2 linked regions of the Homo sapiens genome follow. The protein of the gene in region 2 purifies or fractionates together with the protein of the main gene of each other region. This does not show direct contact. Each region holds a gene or a part of one and is shown on either strand. Other genes may lie near its edges.

Evidence for each region.
Region 1: the proteins of EIF3C (region 2) and EIF3B purify together in Homo sapiens (affinity purification with mass spectrometry; 10 studies listed by BioGRID and IntAct, with this or other methods). This does not show direct contact.

What each region holds. Positions count from the first base shown.
Region 1 is NC_000007.14:2,350,700-2,357,848, reverse strand, and holds the start of EIF3B (eukaryotic translation initiation factor 3 subunit B), read right to left. Parts: upstream 3,023-7,149; 5' UTR 2,928-3,022; coding exon 2,429-2,927; intron 1-2,428.
Region 2 is NC_000016.10:28,714,455-28,721,476, forward strand, and holds part of EIF3C (eukaryotic translation initiation factor 3 subunit C), read left to right. Parts: intron 1-181; coding exon 182-236; intron 237-364; coding exon 365-474; intron 475-852; coding exon 853-980; intron 981-3,821; exon of another isoform or gene 3,822-6,578; intron 6,579-7,022. UniProt on the Homo sapiens protein: Component of the eukaryotic translation initiation factor 3 (eIF-3) complex, which is required for several steps in the initiation of protein synthesis.

The sequences.
Region 1 (7,149 bases), on a different chromosome or scaffold from region 2:
TACTCCTTCCCACAAGCTCAAAGCGTCTAGTCTAGGAGAAACTGCCCACACGTAGGAAGGAAATAAATGAAGTAACTACACCATGAAGACACAACGCCTTGATCACTCTCAGCCCAAGCATCGGTTACACGTGGCTCATGGATTCCCAAGCGGTCTCCAGGAAAAACAGAAGAGAACAATTCTCAACACTAAATAGCAAATAGAAAGAGAAAGAATAGTTAATGAGCCAAAAAAGACATTTAGAGTTAAAATCCTGGATCAGCTGAAACATTAAACTGAAAGGATGATTACAGTTTGAGAAGCTAATCTGTACCAAAAAAGTAATAAAGCAAGACAGGGACTCCAGGCCACCTCTGGCCTGCTCCTTGGAAGACTTGGCCCTTCTGGAAAGAACTGATACAGTCACCTACGGTCTTGCACAATGACCCTGAAGGGCAGCTCTTCTCATAAAGCACAAAACCTGCGTTACCACAACCAGGAGGGCCATGACAAAGTCGGCTTCCTGAGCCTTAGTCCTCAGGACCAGATGCCTCACCTGTCACTCTGGCCAACACTGCACCTTCAGGGCCACGTGGGCCCGCTGAGGACCCACAGCCGTCACCCAGCCTGGCCAACCCTGTCGTCATATTAGCATCCTCTGACTCTTCCCAATTCCAGAAGTAATCTACGTATTAGAAATCTGTGAATTCGATGGGCTCAAATAATGCTTTTTAAAAAAGTAGCAGAATATCCAAGGGCTCAAAATAATCATTAAACCAAAAGTTTTGATTTTTAAACCATAATAACAATTGAAGCGTTAGAAAGAACACTGTTCTGAGCAGGAGAGTCTGGTGGGCCAAGCAGTATAGACCCACTGGGAATTCTCAGCAGCCTACTCCACCTTCAGGGACAAGTTTCCTCAGGACTGAGGGGCGTAGACTAGATGTTCCCAAAGTCTTTAGTTTGTGGTGTCCTTCCTGCTTTTCATGCTAAAATGTCTTTTATGAAAAAAAAAAGTGTAATATAGTAATGGTCACAGTAACTGACAGCGTTTTTATTTTTTAATTTTTCACTTTTTGAGACAGGGTCTCACTCTGTCGCCCAGGCAGTGGTGGGATCTAGGCTCACTGCAACCTCCACCTCCTGGGTTAAAGTGATTCTCGTGCCTCAGCCTCCCAAGTACCTGAGACTACAGGTGTGCACCAGCACACCTGGCTGACTTGTATTTCTGATAACCTTTTTTTCTTTTTCTTTTTTTTTTTTTTTTGAGACGGAGTCTTGCTCTGTCGCCCAGGATGGAGTGCAGTGGCAGGATCTCGGCTCACTGCAAGCTCCGCCTCCCAGGTTCACACCATTCTCCTGCCTCAGCCTCCAGAGTAGCTGGGAAATCCAGGTGCCCGCCACCACGCCCGGCTAATTTTTTTTTATTTTTAGTAGAGACGGGGTTTCACCGTGTTAGCCAGGATGGTGACCTCGTGATCCACCCGTCTCGGCCTCCCAAAGTGCTGGGATTACAGGCGTGAGCCACCCAGCCCGGCCCTCTGATAGCCTTTTAAAAATACGTTTAAATCATAAATTGGCAACTCCATGTTATTCCCGAAATTGTCCTGGTGTATCGCTGGCTACATCAGCAAGGGTATTTTTATTTTTCTCACTCTAGTATCAACTTAGCCAATCTGCAGAGGCTGATGTGTTCCCAACTTAAAGGCTTAAGAGAGCTAAAAAACAAAAGAAAAACAAATGAGACCAGCTCTCATCAGAAGTAGCTTCAGGAAAAAATCTCTGAGACAGGAAGCAAAAATATGCCTGTAAATCCAATCAAGGTTGAGATGAAGGCAAAGCTGGCTGTTATCGGCAATATTAAAACCTGGAAAAATAACTCTCTTTATAGATTTAGCGCAAGAGATAAAGAAAAATCAAACTGGAATTTCACAGGGTGCCTGTCCCACTAAGGAAGTCTCTGGAGATGGACAATTCTGAGGGGCAGGAGGACAAAATCACCGGCTCTGCCACAAGCTGTTCCTCCGATCCAGACCTTGGGAGGTCTGACTGGTCAGCTCTGGGGACACGTAGACCCGCAAACCTGCCACCGGGTCTTCGGTTTTTGCCGTACCCCCAGCTGCTACACTCACAGCACACCCAGCCATAACGGAGTACCCCATGTGCCCTCTCCCACCCTCTCAGATTTCTGGTTGTCATGCAAATGCCTGGCTCCCGAAGTGAGCTCCACCCTGTCCCCTTTTTCAGGAAAGAAAAGGGGAGGCGCTGGGCTCTCAGAACACTTCCAGGGCACTCGGGAACCCCTCCCTCGGTGGCTTCTCAGGAACACACGGACACCCTCGCTGGAACTTCTGCACGAACCGGTGGCACAGCCCGACGATATCTCCCACCTCGGGAACCCCAGCCACGCTCCCGCGCCGCTCGCCAGCCCCGCCCCGGGCGCCCTCACCTTCCTCGCTCACGTCGTCCACGAAGTCCTCGGGGTCGCTGAAGGAGGGCTCGTCCGCGTCGCCGTTCTCCAGCGCCCGGGGTTCGGCCTCGGCCGCTCTGCCCTCGTTTCCTCCCGCGTCCTCGGACACCGCCTGGGCCCGGCTGTCGGAGCGCTCGTCCCGAGCCTGCTCTCCTGGGGCCTCGCCCTGTGCCGGGACAGGGGGCTCAGCATGCGACCCGGGCAGCTCCTCGGCGGCCGGCGGCGAGGGCGACTCGGACGGGCCGGAGGCCGCCTCTGCCTCGGCCGCCGGCTCGGTCCTCACCTCGGACTCCGGCCCGGCCTCCGCGATCCCCACCTCCTCACTGGAGGCCTCGGTCCCCGCGGCCTCCGGAGCGCCGGGCCCCGCGGGCCGCAGCAGCCCCTCGGCTGGCGGCGGCTCGGCGGCCGGCTGCTGCTGGCCGGGCTCGGCGCGCTCCTCGGCCGCCTCGGGCACCGCCACGTTCTCCGCGTCCTGCATGGGCCCAACGCTGCCTACTCGCAGGGCTCCGCGGCCGCCGCGCTTCCGACTCTCCCAGGCCGCACCGCGCGCCGCGACGGCTACAGCCCAGCCATGTGCGTGCGACGGGGAGGCCGCACCAAGGCCGCGGGGCGGGGGGCGCACCCACGCCCTGGGGCCTCACGAACGACCCTGAGAGGACTCGCATCCACAAGACCGCGCCCGAAAATCATCAAACTGATATATTTGTGACAAGAAAGTGCTTAATTCCATTCAGCAAGGTTGTTTCTGTGCATCAGTAAACTCATGGGAGCATTGACCACCCCATGTGTGGCAGCAGATGGTTCCGTCCAACATGGCGTCCTCCCCCTTTCCTTTCCCGTCGGACGCTGCGGGGCGGGACTGAACTATTTGTGGAGCTGAAGGCGGGGACAAGAAATGATTTTAGTACCCGGAATGCTAGGAAAATGTCCTCTAACTCAACAGTTAATACCCTGGAAGAGTGGAGACTCAACAGGCGATTGCTCAGGGCGTCTGAGCCTTTCGCTAGGGAAACCGTTTAGTTTACGTTACTAAAGTCCCCCCTGTCCGTGTCTGTCACTTGGACTCGCCTACTGACTGAGCAAAAGGACAGACTACTTCAAAATAGAAAAGGAATTCGGGGCGAGCCAGAGAGGGCCCACACGACTAGAAGGACGACTGCCTGGCGCGATACAAAAATGTATGGAAGTTTCTTTAATCGCTTACCCCCAGTCCTTCCCTAGCGGCCGTCACTGCCTGTTTCCCCCCATTCGGGCTTTCACAGTGGTTCAGTCCATCCGAGGCCGCCGCCTTCAGCGCGGGACAGCGCGGGTCACGTGGGGGCGGGGGCGGGTCCTCGCCGCGTGGAGCTCGAGGCTGACTCCGGAGGGACCGGAGCGGTTCGCTCTGCGCGGGTGCTCACGGGACGGGCATTGGGTGCATGTGGCTTCTATCTTGTTTTTTGCCGGAGTGGAGGACAACCACTGGTTGGGGGATGTCTTAATCATCCTAGAAAACAACCCAGTGGATCACGCCTGTTATCCCAGCACTTTGGGAGGCTGAGGTGGGAAGATCGCTTGAGCTTAGGAGTTGGAGACCAGCCTTGCCAACATAGCACCACCACCCCCCGCACGCCAGCCCTCATCTCTACGAAAATTAAATAAATAAATAAAACAGGTGGTACCCAGAGGCTGGGGTGGAGAGTGGGGAGTGTTTATCGGGGACGGACCTTCAATTTGGGAGGATGAGAACGTTTTGGAGATGACGGTGGTGATGGTACAACATGGTGAATGTACTTGATGCCACTGAACTGTATACTAAACTTCATATTAAAATGGCTAGGCCCTGCGCGGTGGCTCACACCTCTCTTCCCAGTACTTTGGGAGGCCAAGACAGGAGGATCACTTGAGCCCAAGAGTTCAAGACCAGTCAGGGCAACATAGCGAGACCCTGTCTTCGAAAAAATAAAATAAAATGCCAAAAAGGTAAATTTTATGTATATTTCATCCTATAGTTTTTTTGTTTTGTTTGTTTTCAGAGATAGGGTCTCGCTCTGTTGCCCAGGCTAGAGTGCGGTGGCATAATCACAGCGCCGCTGCAATCGGGACCTTCCAGCCTCAAGAGAATCCTCCCACCTCAGCCTCCCAAAGTGCCAGGATTACAAGCGTGAACCACCGCGCAGGGCCTAGCCATTTTAATATGCAATTTAGTGTACAGTTCAGTGACATTAAGTACATTGCCAAGTACTTGGGACTGAAGGTATGTGCCACCGTGCCCAGCTAATTTCTTTATTTGTAGATAGCATCTCACTGTGTTGCCCAGGCTGGTCTCAAACTCCTGGCCTCAAGCAGTCTTCCTCCCTCAGCTTCCCAAAGTGCCGGGACTATAGGCATGAGCCACCACACCCATCCCATCCTAACGGTGTTTAAAAGAGCGAAAAAGAAGCAGAGTCTTCCCATGCCTAGTACCAGGTTTGACTACTCCTCATCATGCTGTCAGTGGTGTATCTTTGGGCAGGTCACTTAATGCCTCCACCTCAGTTTCCGCATCTGTACAATAAGGGATGACAATTTTTTTTTTTTTTATTTAGACGGAGTGTTGCTCTGTCGCCTAGGCTGGAGTGCAGTGGCACGATCTCGGCTCACTGCAAGCTCCACCTCCCGGGTTCACGCCATTCTCTTGCCTCAGCCTCCCAAGTAGCTGGGAATACAGGTGCCCGCCACCACGCCTGGCTGATTTTTTTTGTATTTTTTTAGTAGAGACGAGGTTTCACCGTATTAGCCAGGATGGTCTCGATCTCCTGACCTTGTGATCCGCCTGCCTCGGCCTCCCAAAGTGCTGGGATTACAGGTGTGAGCCAATACGCCTGGGAGTATGTTTTTTCTACATATGCATGCTTACAATAGGGCACAGTAAGAGATTAACAGCAATAACTAATAGAACAATTATAACAATATATTGTCATAAAAGTTATGTGGATGTGGTGTCTGGTGGTGTGTCTGTGTCTCTCTCTGTCAAATTTTCTTCATTATGTAATATTTTCCAACCTAATTGACCATAAGTAACTGAAACAGTGCAATGTGAAACTGGGGGTCGGGGGGGCTACTGTGTTTGGAAGCAGTCTTCCCAGATGTAATCAAGATGAAGTCAAAGTGGACGAGAGTGGACCCTAAATCAGTGATTGATGTCCTTATTAGAAGAAGGAAATTATGGCCGGGCATGGTGGCTCACACCTGTAATCCCAGCACTTTGGGAGGCCAAGGTGGGCGGATGCATTACATGAGGTCAGGAGTTCGAGACCAGCCTGAACAACATGGTGAAACCCCATCTCTACTAAAAATACAAAAATTAGCCAGGCATGGTGGCACATGCCTGTAATCTCAGCTACTCAGGAGGCTGAGGCGGGAGAATCACTTGTACCCTGGAGGCAGAGGGCGTAGTGAGCGGAGATTGCACCATTTCACTCCAGCCTGGGCAACGAGCAAAAATCCATCTCAAAAAAAAAAAAAAAAAAAAACCAACAACAACAACAAAAACTTACTCGATTTTTTGTTTTTATTATTATCTTTATTTATTTATTTATTTATTTTTTGAGATGGAGTCTCACTCTGTCGCCCAGGCTGGAGTGCAGTGGTGCTATCTCGGATCACTGCAAGCTCCACCTCCCGGGTTCAAGCAATTCTCCTGCCTCAGCCTCCCGAGTAGCTGGGACTACAGGCGCCTGCCACCACACCCGGCTAATTTTTTGTATTTTTAGTAGAGACGGGTTTCATCCTGTTAGTCAGGATGGTCTCACTCTCCTGACCTCGTGATCCGCCCGCCTTGGCCTCCCGAAGTGCTGGGATTACAGGCGTGAGCCACTGCGCCTGGCCTATTATTATTTTTTAACAGGGTCTCACTCTGTCACCCAGGCTGGAGTACAGTGGTGCCGTCGCACCTCACTGTAGCTTCAGTCTCACAGGCTCACCTTAGCTTCCTGAGTATCTGGTAGTACAGATCCACACCACCACATCGGGCTACCTTTTTGTTTTTCTGTAGAGATGGGGTCTCACTATGTTGCTCAGTCTGGTCTTCAACTCCTGGGCTCAAGCAGTTCTCCCAACTCTGCCTCCCAAAGTGCTACAGGCATGAGCCAGCAGGCCTGGCCTCCGCTGGTCTATTTCTGAGCCTCTGAGGTGAAGGAGTGGGAAACCTGAGGCACCGCACCAACCCTGGCAGCAGAGATGGCCGGATGAGGCTCCCAGGCTGACCTGCAGCGTGGCCTGTGTTGTGCTTCCAGGGGTAGATTTTTTTCTTTTTGTTTTTGAGACAAGGTCTCACTCTGTCACCCAGGCCGGGAGCACAGTGGCGCAATCATGGCTCACTGCAGCCTCAAACTCCCAGGCTCGTGATCCTCCCGCCGCCTCCTCCTGAGTAGTTGAGACTATAGGCGTGCACCACTGTGCCCGGCTAATTTTTTAAATTGTTTATTTAGAGAGCGAGGCACAGTGGCTCCCACCGGTAATCCCAGCACTTTGGGAGAGTGAGGCAGGAGGATCACTTGAGGTCAGGAGTTCAAGACTAGCCTGGCCAACATGGTGAAACCCTATCTCTACTAAAAATACAAAATTTAGCCGGGTGTGGCCGCAGGCGCCTGTAATCCCAGCTACTCAGGAGGCTGAGGCAGGAGGATCACTTGAGCCCAGGAGGCAGAGGCTGCAGTGAGCCGAGGTTGTGCCACTGC
Region 2 (7,022 bases):
GCTAGAGGCACACTTACTGAACTGGGAACAGTGACCCCGTGACTGAGGCCCAAAGATGGAATTGCTAGTGGGAGGTGTGACTGGAGCAGGAAGATGACAGAACTGTCTGGGGTGGAGGGGTGGGGTGGGCTGATGGCTGGACAGCGTCCATGATTGTTCTCTCACTTCCCTCTCTGTCCAGAACCCCGAGCAGTCTGCGGATGAAGATGCTGAGAAAAATGAGGAGGATTCAGAAGGTGAGCCAAAGAACCTTTGTTGCAAATAGGAAGTCCAGAGTTAGTGTTGCCCTTCGCCTGGTTTCTTGGCTGCCCTCCAGTCTGGCTTTTCAACATTCAGGATCTTTTTCTCCCTCCATTACCACTAGGCTCTTCAGATGAGGATGAGGATGAGGACGGAGTCAGTGCTGCAACTTTCTTGAAGAAGAAATCAGAAGCTCCTTCTGGGGAGAGTCGCAAGTTCCTCAAAAAGATGGATGTAAGAGCCAGGGTTAGATGGATGATTTCCTGCCAGAGGTAGTTCCTGAGTCCCTGGGGGAAAAAGACAAGACTCAAACCCCTAGGGTTGGGAGGGGTGGAATTTAGTGGAGTTGAGAACAAGCTTCCTCTTACATCAGAGCAGTGGGCAAACAGGGATCTGGGCCCAGCTCTGCCAGGGGAAGCTGTGTGTGTTCCTGCGGCCAAATTGCAGCATCACTCTGGGACTTGATGGTGAGTCCCAGCCCTTGGTATCTTGATTCCATGAGTAGCTGCTCTTGTTCTACTCATGTAAATAAATCTCGAACATGCGTTAGTAAGGAGGAGACACCAGTCAATCTCCCTGTCTTCTTGCTGATCCTCTTTTCTTCCCTCTAAGGATGAAGATGAGGACTCAGAAGATTCCGAAGATGATGAAGACTGGGACACAGGTTCCACATCTTCCGATTCCGACTCAGAGGAGGAAGAAGGGAAACAAACCGCGCTGGCCTCAAGATTTCTTAAAAAGTAAGGAAAGTAGTGGGACCTAGGGTTACACTGGAACTGGTGGAAAGCTCTTAATTGTCTGGAAGGTTATTGATTCTTCCATGGAGTCCTTTTAGGTTGGAGCAGCCAACTGTTAGCATTTTACAGTAGGATCAGAGAGTCAAGTACATTAGTTGGCTAAAGTCACGAAGCTAATGTGTCCTAAAGATGAGAATTGAAGGCTCCAGAGTCCAAATATTTACCCACAGCCTTACTCACTGCGTGTGGATTGGGTGCAAATCTCACTTTGGCACCCGATACCTGTGTGACATTGGACAAACTACTTAGCCTGTCTAATCTTCAGTTTTCTCATCTGTAAAATAAGGCAGGGAACCCTCCCTTCCAGAATAGCTGCAGGAATACAGGGAGGTGTGATGTAAGAAAGTAGTTCATCTAGGACTGACGTGTGGTGAGCCCTCAGTGTGCGTTGCTACTGTGTTACCCTTCCTGATAACTTCTTAGTACACATACAGCATACAGACTGCCGCAAGTGTTCATGACCTTTACTGGGACAGTCAGAATAGGGGAGGATCCCAGTGTGGATTCTGTCTCCCAGCCTTTATCAGCTGTACAACATTGTATAAGTTACTTGACCTTAAGTCTTAGTTTCTCCCTTTGAAGTAAAAGTGATACCTGCTCTTTTGTATCCCATGGGAGTGAAATCTCAAGCTCACTAAAAATAGTGCTTTTATTTATTTTTTCTTAGCCAGTTTGCACAAACTACAGATAAAAAGTGCTTTTTTTGAGACAGGGTCTCACTCTTCCCAGGCTGGAGTGTAGTGATGCAATCTTGGCTCACTGCAACCACAACCTCTTGGGCTCAGGTGATCTTCCCACCTCAGGCTCCTGGGTAGCTGGGACTACAGGTACACTCCAGTACATCCGGCTAATTCTTGTGTTTTTAATACAGACAAGATTTCACCATGTTACCCATGCTGATCTTGAACTCCTGGGCTTAAGCGATCCTCCCGCCTCAGCCTCCCAAAGTGCTGGGGTTATAGGCGTGAGCCACTGCACCCAGACAAATAGTACCCTTTTAATGGGAAGATTATTGCTCTCAAGGTTGCTTTCCTGTGTTTAAAAGTTGTGGTCGTGCTGCTTTAGGGAGGTAGTGAGTTTCCAGCCCTCTAGAGGTCTAGAGAGGCTGAACAACTTACTTGGTGGGCATTTTGTTGAGAAGGCCTTTTTTGTCCAGTGCTTCAGGGAACACTGGTCAAGGTCTGGGCCACATTGTCTATCACACCCCTTCTTGGAGGGTTTACAACCACCTCTGGAAAGTTCCATGAGAATAAATATACCTAACTTTGTTTTATTAACCATCTCAAAAACTTGCTTGATCATGAAACTCGTTTTTTTAACCTGTTGACATCTTACAGAACTATCAGCGTTACTATTGGTTCAGGTCTTTTATATCTACTGTACTTTGTGTTTTTGTCTTTGAATAATTGTGTATTGAAGTCTCCCATTGTGTGGACTCCGGTGTGTGATGTGCACTGCACATGTGTGTTACACAAAGGCTCCTGTCTGAGGGAGCAAATGGGGCCTAAAATTAAACTTAAGACATCAAGGCTGGGCACGGTGGCTTACGCCTGTAATCCCAGCACTTTGGGAGGCCGAGGCGGGCAGATCACGAAGTCAGGAGATCGAGACCATCCTGGCTAACACAGTGAAACCCAGTCTCTACTAAAAATACAAAAAATTAGCCAGACATGGTGGCAGGCGCCTGTAGTCCCAGCTACTCGGAAAGCTGAGGCAGGAGAATCGCTTGAACTGGGAGGCAGAGGTTGCAGTGAGCCGAGATCGTGCCACTGCACTCCAGTCTGGGCGACAGAGCAAGACTCTGTCTCAGAAAACGAAACAAAACAAAAAAAACTCTAAGACTATAAAGCTATACTTTTATAAATACAGACTCAAAAGTTCTTAACAACATAGTAGAAAACCAAACACAGCAACATACAATAAGGATTATATGGGAGCACCCCCTCCTTGCCTGTAGGGGGATGGAGGATGGGTGGGCTCATCTCCCAAAAAAGTTTTAAAAAAAAATTTAATAACAAGGAGGATTTATCCCAATAATAGAAGGATGTTTTAATATGAAAATCAACTAATATACTATATCAATAGAATAACAGACAAAAGCCGTAGAGTCATCTCAGCAGATGCAAAAAAAAGCATTTGAAAAAAATCCTAATATTCTTTCATGATAAAAGACTGAAGCTAGGAATAGAAGGGAGCTTCCCTCTACCTGATAAAGGATGTTTATGAAAAGGACGTTTCCTGTCCTTTTATTTTTAACTCTGCCATGCTGTATGATTAAGAGTGTTTCTTGGCTGGGCGTGGTGGCTCACGCCTGTAATCCCAGCACTTTGGGAGGCGGAGGCAGGCAAATCACAAGGTCAGGAGTTCGAGACCAGCCTGGCCAACATGGCGAAACCCCATCTCTACTAAAAATACAAAAAAATTAGCCCGGTGTGGTGGCCTGCGCCTGTAGTCCCAGCTACTCATGAGGCTAAGGCAGGAGAATTGCTTGAACCCGGGAGGCGGAGGTTGCAGTGTGCCGAGATCGCGCCATTGCACTTCAGCTTTGGGCAACAGAGCAAGACTCCGTCTCAGGAAAAAAAAAAAAAAAAAAAAAAAAGAGTGTCTCTTAAGCACAGCTAGGTTTTTGGTTTGTTTTTTTTTTAATCTCATAAAATCTCTGCTTTTTTTTTCTTTTATTGTGATACATAACATTTCCCATTTTAACCATTTTCAGGTATACAAATCAGTGGCATTTAGTACGTTCACATTGTGCAATGACCGCCAGAACTTGATCTCTGCTTCTCTGGCAATTTAGTTCATTTACGTTTATTATAGTTATTTACATATATATGATGGTTATTTATATATGTGTCTACATAATTAGTTTTTATCAAGATGGGGTCTTGCCCTGTTGCCCAGGATGGTCTCGAACTCCTGGGCTCGAGTAACCCTTCTGCCTGGGCCTCCTAAAGTGCTGGGATTACAGGCGTGAGCCACTGCGCCCAGCCTATTGTGGTTATCAATGCATTTATTCTTACCATTTTATGGTATCTTATACTTTCTGTTTATCCTCTTTATTTTAAATTTTGTAATAGCTTTATTGAGGTGTACATGACATACAATAACTGCACTTGTTTAAAGTTTTTTTTTTTTTTTTTTTTTTTTGAGACAGAGTCTTGCACTGTCGCCCAGGCTGGAGTGCAGTGGCGCAATCTCGGCTCACTGCAAGCTCCACCTCCCGGGTTCACACCATTCTCCTGCCTCAGCCTCCTGAGTAGCTGGGACTACAGCCACCCGCCACCACGCCTGGCTAATTTTTTGTACTTTTAGTAGAGACAGGGTTTCACCATGTTAGCCAGGATGGTCTCGATCTCCTGACCTCGTGATCCACCCGCCTCGGCCTTCCACTAAGTGCTGGGATTACAGGCATGAGCCACCGCACCCAGCCTTAAAGTTAAATTTAATAAGTTGTGACATATGTTTACACCCATAGAACTCACCACAATCAAAACATAATATCCTAAAAATTTCACACCTAAACATTTCCACCTTCCCCTTTGTAATACTTCTCCCTGCCTCAGTTTCCTCACCCTATCCCTGGGCAACCACTAATTTGCTTTCTGTCACTAGGTAAGTTAGCATTTTCTAGAATTTTATGTAAATGGAATCAACGGTATATAATTTGGAGGGGGTAGTTTCTTTAATCATAATTATTTTGAAATTCATTCTGTCTTCTAAAGATTGGGCATCTCTAATTCCAAAGTCTGAAACTTCTGGAGCACCATAAGTGGACAATTCCACATCTGACCTCATGTGACAGGTTGCAGTCAAAACTTTGTTTCATGCACAAAATTATTTAAAATACTATGTAAAATTGCCATCAGGCTGTTTGTATAAGGTGTAGATGAAACACACAAATTTCATAGTTAGACTTGGAGCCCTTCCCAAGATACCCCATTATATATATGCAATTATTTGAAATTTGAAACACTTCTGGTTCTAAGCATTTCAGATAAGGGATATTCAGCCTGTATTTTATTTTTCTTTTATTTGTGTGTTTTTTGTTTTTGTTTTTGAGAAGGAGTCTCACTGTGTTGCCCCGGCTGGAATGCAGCGGTGCAATCCTGGCCCACTGCAACCTCTGCCTCCTGGGTTCAAGTGATTCTCAGGCCTCAGCCTCCTGGGTAGCTGGGACTACACGTGAGCACCACCACGCCCAGCTAATTTTTATATTTTTAGTAGAGATGAGGTTTCAGCATGTTGGCCAGGCTGGTCTTGAACTCCTGACCTTAGATGATTCGCTCGCCTCAGCCTCCCAGAGTACTGGGATTACAGGCATGAGCCACCACACCTAGCCTACATGTATTTTCTCATCCTCTTTTTTTTTTCCCCGTTTCTAGTTATATATATTTTCTTATTATTCATTTTGTTTTTTTCTGCTGGTTTGGGAGTTAGACGTGCTATGCTTTTAGAGGTTATTCTTGAATTTTTTTTTTTTTTTTTTTGAGACACTAGCCTGTTGCCGAGGCTAGAATGCAGTGAGTGGCGCAATCTCGGCTCACTGCAAGCTCCGCCTCCCGGGTTCACGCCATTCTCCTGCCTCAGCCTCCTGAGTAGCTGGGACTACAGGCACCTGCCACCATGCCCAGCTAAATTTTTTTGTATTTTTAGTAGAGACGGGGTTTCACTGTGTTAGCCAGGATGGTCTCGATCTCCTGACCTCGTGATCTGCCCACCTCAGCCTCCCAAAGTGCTGGAATTACAGGCGTGAACCACCGCACCCAGCCAAATTTTTTTTTGTTAACCTGTAAACTAACTTGTATACCTAATCAGAATAGTCTAAAATTAGTTGAATCAATGTTCTGAGGAAAACCCTTGAGAAAATAAAGTTAGAATTTCAAGTGTCAGAATCTTTTTGACATTGAGAGTTTGTGGCTTTGTAGTGTAGAAGAATAATTCACAGACACTATTTCACTTGTGTAACAAGGGAGACAGATTTTCAGATTAATTTCCAACCGAGCAAAAGCAGGATTTATATAGGAGAAAGAGGAACAAGGAGAGAGGGCAAAACCACAGAACAGTGGATTCTGTTTGCCCGTTTTTCTGTGTAAACTCTGATATTAACTCTCCTTGAGTATGCCACCCAGGGTTGGTGGATGCTCTAGAAAACACGATAGGCCCTCTGCCAGTAAGGGTTTTCAGCAACTCCAGATTCAGCCAGTCTAAATATACCCTTTCCATCATCAGCATTTCTCAGCCTTCATCTTTTGGTCAAAACAAGCTTGTAAAGGAGTGGGTTTATTCTCATGAGCTTCAGCCTCTTTGATGTGGGATAAGGCCATCTGTTGTCTTATGGTGATCTGAAGGTATTAGGGGGAAGTTCATCTATACCTGATGTCATGATTGACCTGTGAACTCTTTTTCTTTTTTTCTTTTTTTAGATGGAGTCTTGCTCTGTTGCCCAGGCTGGAGTGCAGTGGTGCAATCTCATCTCACTGCAACCTCCGCCTCCCTGGTTCAAGCAGTTCTCCTCAGCCTCCCAAGTAGCTGGGATTACAGGCACGTGCCACCACGCCTGGCTAATTTTTTGTATTTTTAGTAGAGACGGGGTTTCGCCGTGTTAGCCAGGATGGTCTCGATCTCCTTATCTCTTGATTGCCTGCCTCGGCTTCCCAAAGTGCTGGGATTACAGGCGTGAGCCACTGCGCCCAGCGACCTGTGAACTCTTACAGAGCTGCTGTCTACTTCTAAGAGTTACCTGATTCTGGAGGCGTTTTTTTGTTTTTGTTTTTGTTTTTTAAGTGAACCCCAGGATCTCTAGTGAGACTGAATGTCCGAGTTAGGATCCTAAGCAAGGGTATACATCTAGGGCTTTCCATCAGTAGTTGTGGTTGGGAAGGCATGGGAAAATGGTGTGGTCCTCTGCAGTGTAGTTAGGCCTGACTTCCGTTGGTGTCTCTCAATAATGAGTTTTTAGTCTCTTAACTATGTATTAAGTAGAGG